Linked DNA regions of Homo sapiens: region 2 is linked to region 1. The links come from fine-mapping of genetic effects on gene expression. A gene starts in region 1. The other region holds a variant in brackets. All regions are shown on one strand. Distances are from middle to middle. Region 1 holds the start of CSE1L (chromosome segregation 1 like). Region 2 has its middle 33 kb from the start of ARFGEF2.

Evidence for each region. PIP is the estimated chance that this variant, and not a neighbour inherited with it, causes the effect.
Region 2: its variant is fine-mapped to the expression of CSE1L in whole blood (INTERVAL, PIP 0.92).

What each region holds. Positions count from the first base shown.
Region 1 is chr20:49,044,973-49,047,882 of GRCh38, forward strand. It overlaps CSE1L (chromosome segregation 1 like), which reads left to right and starts at 1,340. Exons shown (of 25, transcript NM_001316.4): 1 at 1,340-1,451. It overlaps CSE1L-DT (CSE1L divergent transcript), which reads right to left and starts at 1,084. Exons shown (of 2, transcript NR_110625.1): 1 at 888-1,084. RefSeq lists enhancers at 963-1,112, 1,663-1,732, 1,698-2,338.
Region 2 is chr20:48,886,956-48,889,865 of GRCh38, forward strand. It overlaps a transcript of PREX1 not described here. Among named protein-coding and RNA genes, the nearest start is that of ARFGEF2, 33 kb to the right of the region's middle. The variant G/A (reference allele first, on the strand shown) is at 1,404.

The DNA.
Region 1 (2,910 bases):
AAGGTCAGGAGTTCAAGATCAGCCTGGCCAATATGGTGAAACCCCGTGTCTACTAAAAATACAAAAATCAGCGGGGCATGGTGGCGGGCACCTGTAGTCCCAGTAACTTGGGGGGCTGAGTCAGGAAAATTGCTTGAACCTGGGAGGCAGAGGTTGCAGTGAGCTGTGACAGCACCACTGCACTCCAGCCCTCCAGCCTGGGCGACAGAGCAAGACTCTGTCTTTAAAAAAAAAAAAAAAAAAGAAAAGCCCTTGCTGTATAGAATCCCTTAGGTTATGGATGGGGAGGAGGGCAGGGGTTTAGGAGGGGAGAAGCGGAAGGAGGAACAAAATAAAGAAGAGACAATTAGTTGGAGAGTGATAAATACCATAATGATATCATGGAACTAGGCTTACCAGATCAAACACTGGGCACCCAGTTCAATGTGAATTTCAGATAAGCAATGCATGATTTTTAAGTATAAATATGTCCTACACAGTATTTATACTAGAAAATTATAAATTTTTTTCTAAAATTTACATTGACCTGGGCAGCCTGCATTTTATTTGCTAAACCTGGCAACCCTAATTTGTGTGCTGGGTGGTGGTGAGTGGGCAATTTCAGATAGGCCTCTTTTGTGGAGGTGACATTTGAGCTGGAACCTAAATGTAAAGAAGGAGCCAATCATTCAGGAATCTAGAACATCCCAGCACAGGGAACAGCAAGTATAAATGCTCTAAAGTGGAAATAAGCTTGGAGCTTAGAGGAACAGGAAGAAGGTGGGGTGGCGGAGCTGAGTGAGGGTGAGGAGAGGAGGGAAGCGGAAGGTGATGAGGGCAGGCAGGCTGGCAGGGGCCAGATCCCATATGGTTTGTGGGCTGTAATAAGAGTACCAAAACTTACATACCAGGCCAGGCGCGGTGGCTCACGCCTGGAATCCCAGCATTTTGGGAGGCCAAGGTGTGCGGATCACTTGAGGCCAGGAGTTCGAGACCTGTCTGGCCGTGTCTCCCTCTAAAATAGAAGCTCCAAGAGGGGCAGGAAGTTCTCTTCCGTCTTAGACCCTATGTGCACGACCTTGGATCGATCAACATTGAACACCTCCTACGTGCCAAGCCCTGACATCAAAATGGGTCAGAAGCCAGCAGCCGCTCGCTGAATCTGTGTTCCTCTTTGGAAAACGAGAACCGTGAAGCCTGCTGGCATGGTCAGAGCCAAAGAGCATTGTCACTTGTGAGATCAGCGCAGAAACAGAGCGGGGCCCCGATTGGCCCTTCGAACTTGGGTGGGGCCAGAGCATTCCTGGCCCCGCCCCCTGCAGCGGGCCGCTCGCTCATGCGCTCTGGCCTCAGGCTCGCTGTCGCGCCATTTTGCCGGGGTTTGAATGTGAGGCGGAGCGGCGGCAGGAGCGGGTAGTGCCAGCTACGGTCCGCGGCTGGGGTTCCCTCCTCCGTTTCTGTATCCCCACGAGGTGAGGCGCGGGGCGTGCACGGCCTACCAGAGTGGCTCTTGGGGCCCAGCTGAGGAAGGGATGAGGCGCTCCCGGTACTAACGAGCGCTAGGGAGTGAGAACCGCGCCTCTGGGCGAGAGCGGAATGTGGGCCCGGGGTTCGGGTGGTGCGCTCAGGCAAGGTCTTCGGCTTCCCTAGGGAGCGCTTGCCGCGCCTCGCGGCATCCTAGGTCTCTGGCCCAGGTGCGGCGACCCCAGGGCCTGTGAGGGCTGAGGGCAACTGAGGCGCGGCCTAACGCGAGCCTGCGGATTGCCCGCCCTTTCCTCTCCATCACGGCGCTGATTGGCTGCGCCGCCGCCTCTCCGCTCGGGAAGGCCGCTCCTTATTGGTCGCGCTCGCATGTCCATTCTCTGCGACGGTGGCTGCTAGCCGCGCGAGCTGAGTGTGCGGCGGCGAGGCCTGCCCGGGCGGGGACTGCGGGCGCGTGGAGCTGCGGCTGCCTCGCGTCGTCCCTTGCCCTAACTCTAGTGAAGCCCCCGAACTCACCCTTCTCTAACCTCTGTACTTGTATCCCTGACTGTAAAACGGGCATCGTGATCTCACTTTGCTGAATTGTTTGTGAGAATTCTAGTCGGTACACCCGGGACATAGAAATCCCCTGTAACGCGGGTTGGGGGAGGGTTCCCTCGTTTTGGGAGAAACGCTGTGCTGTGGTGGTTCGGAGCATAGACTTTGGAATTAGATCGCCTGGGTTCATTCCAGACGTAGCCTCTCGTTAGGGGTGTAACTTGAGGCTGGTCACCTCATCTCACTGAGCCTCCATTTCCTTAGCTGCAAAATGGGGTTAATAACAGAATCTACCTCGGAAAGTGGCTTTGAGGATGCGCTGAGTTATTTACCGTGGTTTACAAAGGTTCCCTGGGAGCTGACGGTTGTTTATTCATCTCTCCCACCCATCTTTCTCCTTAGCCAGTGTGGCTTTCTGTTTCTTCCATATTCCAGGGTTATTCCGATTTAAAATTATTTGCACATGCCTTTTGTTTGCTGGGGAAGTACCAACATTTTTGCAAGGCAGGCCGCCTCTCCCAAGTTTCCCTCACCTTAGGCCTCCCCTAACCAACCTCTTCTTTTGTTTTCTTTTTCTTTTTCTTTTCTCTTTTCTTTTTTTTTTTTTTTTTTTTTTTTTTTTGAGAGAGAGAGTCTCGCTCTGCCTCCCAGGCTGGAGTGCAGTGGCGCGATCTCGACTCACTGCAACCTCCGCCTCCCGGATTCAAGCGATTCTCCTGCCTCAGCCTCCCGAATAGCTGAGACTACAGGTCTGAGACTACACGCCACCACACCCGGCTAATTTTTGTATTTTTATTAGAGACGGGGTTTCACCATGTTGATCAGGCTGTCTAATCAACCTGTCTAGGACCTTTCTCCCATGGCTCTCCATCAACATCACCTGGTTTTAGTTACTTCATAGCATTTACTAAC
Region 2 (2,910 bases), 160 kb before region 1:
TCCCTTTAGCAATATAGTATCTCATTTAAGCCTCACAACCATCGGAGGTAGGTAGGGCAGGTAATACTATCTTTAAGAGGAATGGCAATGAGGGAACAGCAAATGAGGAAGCTGAAGCCTAGAGAAGGTAGGTGATTTGCCCAAAGTTGCATGATAAACAGCAAAGGCTCTGGAGGCAGGTGGCATAGGTTCAAACCCCAGCTATTACTGATCAGCCTCATAATCTTGAACAAGTTAATACATACCTCCGTGCCTCAGTTTCCCCATCTTTCTTAGAGTTTTTATGAGGATTAAGCAAGTCAATACATGGAAAGCACTTTATTTAAAATGTTGGTGGCCAGGAGCAGTGGGTCACACCTGTAATCCCAGCACTTTGGGAGGCCAAGGCATGCGGATCACTTTGAGCTCAGGAGTCAGAGACTGGTCAACATGGAAAACATGGCAAAACCTGGCCAACATGGTTGACTCAGCCTGGCCAACATGACAAAACCCTGTCTCTACAAAATATACAAAAATTAGCCAGGCATAGTGGCTCACACCTGTGGTCCCAGCTACTTGGGAGACTGAGGCTGAAAGACAGCTTGAGCCCGGGAAGCAGAGGTTGCAGTGAGCCAAGATCACACCACTGCACTCCAGCCTGGGCGACAGAGTGAGACCCCAACTCAAAATAATAAATAAACAAATAAATAAATAAAAATAAAATGTTGTTTGCCGGGTGCGGTGATTCACGCCTGTAATCCCAGCACTTTGGGAGGCCGAGGTGGGCGGATCACGATGTCAAGAGATGGAGACCATCCTGGCTAACACAGCGAAACCCCGTCTCTACTAAAAATACTAAAACAAAATTAGCCGGGCGTGGTGGCGGGCTCCTGTAGTTCCAGTTCCTGGGGAGGCTGAGGCGGGAGAATGGCGTAAACCCGGGAGGCGGAGCTTGCAGTGAGCCGAGATCACGCCGCCGCACTCCAGCCTGGGCGACAGAGTGAGATTCCGTCTCAAAAAAATAAATTAAATAAATAAATAAATAAATAATAAAATGCTGGTATTTTGGGCCAAGCACTGTGGGTCACACCTGTTGTATTAGGTTTTCACACTGCTGCTAAAGACACCCGAAACTGGGAACAAAAAGAGGTTTAATTGGACTTACAGTTCCACATGTCTGGGGAATTTCTCAGAATCATTGTGCAGGGCGAAAAGCACTTCTTACATGGTGGCCGCAAGAAAGAATGAGGGAAGAAGCAAAAGCAGAAACCCCTGATAAACCCATCAGATCTCGTGAGACTTATTCACTATCACGAGAATAGCACGGGAAAGACTGGCCCCCATGATTCAATTACCTCCCTCTGGGTCTCTCCCACAACACGTGGGAATTCTGGGAGATACAATTCAAGTTGAGATTTGGGTTG[G/A]GACACAGTCAAACCATATCACACTGTAATCCGAACACTTTGGGAGGCTAAGGCAGGTGGATAACTTGAGTCCAGGAGTTTGAGACCAGCCTGGACAACATAGTGAAACCCCATCGCTACTAAAAAAATACAAAAATTAGCTGGCCGTGGTGGTGCACTCAGCTACTCGGGAGGCTGAGGTAGGAGAATTGCTTGAACCTGGGAGGTGGAGGTTGCAGTGAGCCAAGATCGCAGCACTGCACTCCAGCCTGGCGACAGAGCGAGACTCCAACTCAAAAAAAAAAAAAAAAAAAAAAATTAGCCAAGCATGGTGGCACATGCTTGTAATCTCAACTACTTGGGAGGTTGAGGTGGGAGGATCTCTTGAGCCCAGGAGGCAGAGGTTGAAGTGGGCCGAGATTGCACCACCACACTCCAGCCTGGGCAGCAGAGCAATATCCTGTCTAAAAAAAAAAAAAAAAAAAAAAAGCCATTTTGTTTGTCATGGATTTTTGTATTCATTTCGATTTTGGTAAATATTGCATTACAAATACTTTATCTTAATTACCAAGTTTGTTAACGCTCCCTTAAATTTTGTCTGGCTTGCTTCACCCTAGTCCTGGCCCTGCTTTGCATGGGGGAATCCTTTAATACACACTAGCTAGTGTCATCCCACTACTTGTTGAATGCTAACTATATGCCAAGAATTGCTGTTAGAAGTTTTATAAGTATACATCACCTCAACAACAAGAAGAAGAAAAATCAGAAACCAAGTTGAAAAGCAAGTGACAGGACAGGAGAAAATATCTGTAGTTTATACAGGCAAAAGATTGGTGCTCAAAATATATAAAGAACTACTACAGATTCATTTTTAAAAAGACAAACTACCCAATACAACAGCAGGCAAAGGACAGAAATGGGCAGTTCACCAAAGAGGAAAAACAGATGGTCAGTAAACATATGAAAAAAACTTTAGCCTCACTGGTTATGAAATACACATTTGGAAGTGTGATGTTATCAAGGGTTGGGAAGAGTGTAAGGAAATGGGATTATAAACTGATTATAAACTGATATAGCCTTTTTGGAGGGAAATTCAGGATCTCTATTAAAGTGAAATTGCATACACCCACTGACTGAGCTATTTCACTTTTGTCTGCGCCAGAGAAACACGTACACATGTGCATGAGGATATTTATCAAAACTTTGCTCTGAATGGCAGTAAGTTGGAAACACCCTAAATGCCCCTCAAAAAGGGAACTGATCAATAAACCACAGTATAGTCATTCTATGAAGTAGAAGCTACAGGGTTTATTTTTAAGGTAGATCATGCTATTAATTTTGGGGTGCAAAAGCAAGTGGTAGAGCCATATGCACTGTATGTTGCCACTTGTGCTTGCAAAAACAACCAGGAAAAAAACAGTACTGAAGAAGTTCTCATTGGCCGACTATCCAACAGTCATTGCCTTCTTCTTTGCTAATAATCTCCAACTTTGTCTGGGTGGCACCGTGCCCCATGCCAGGGAAGGAA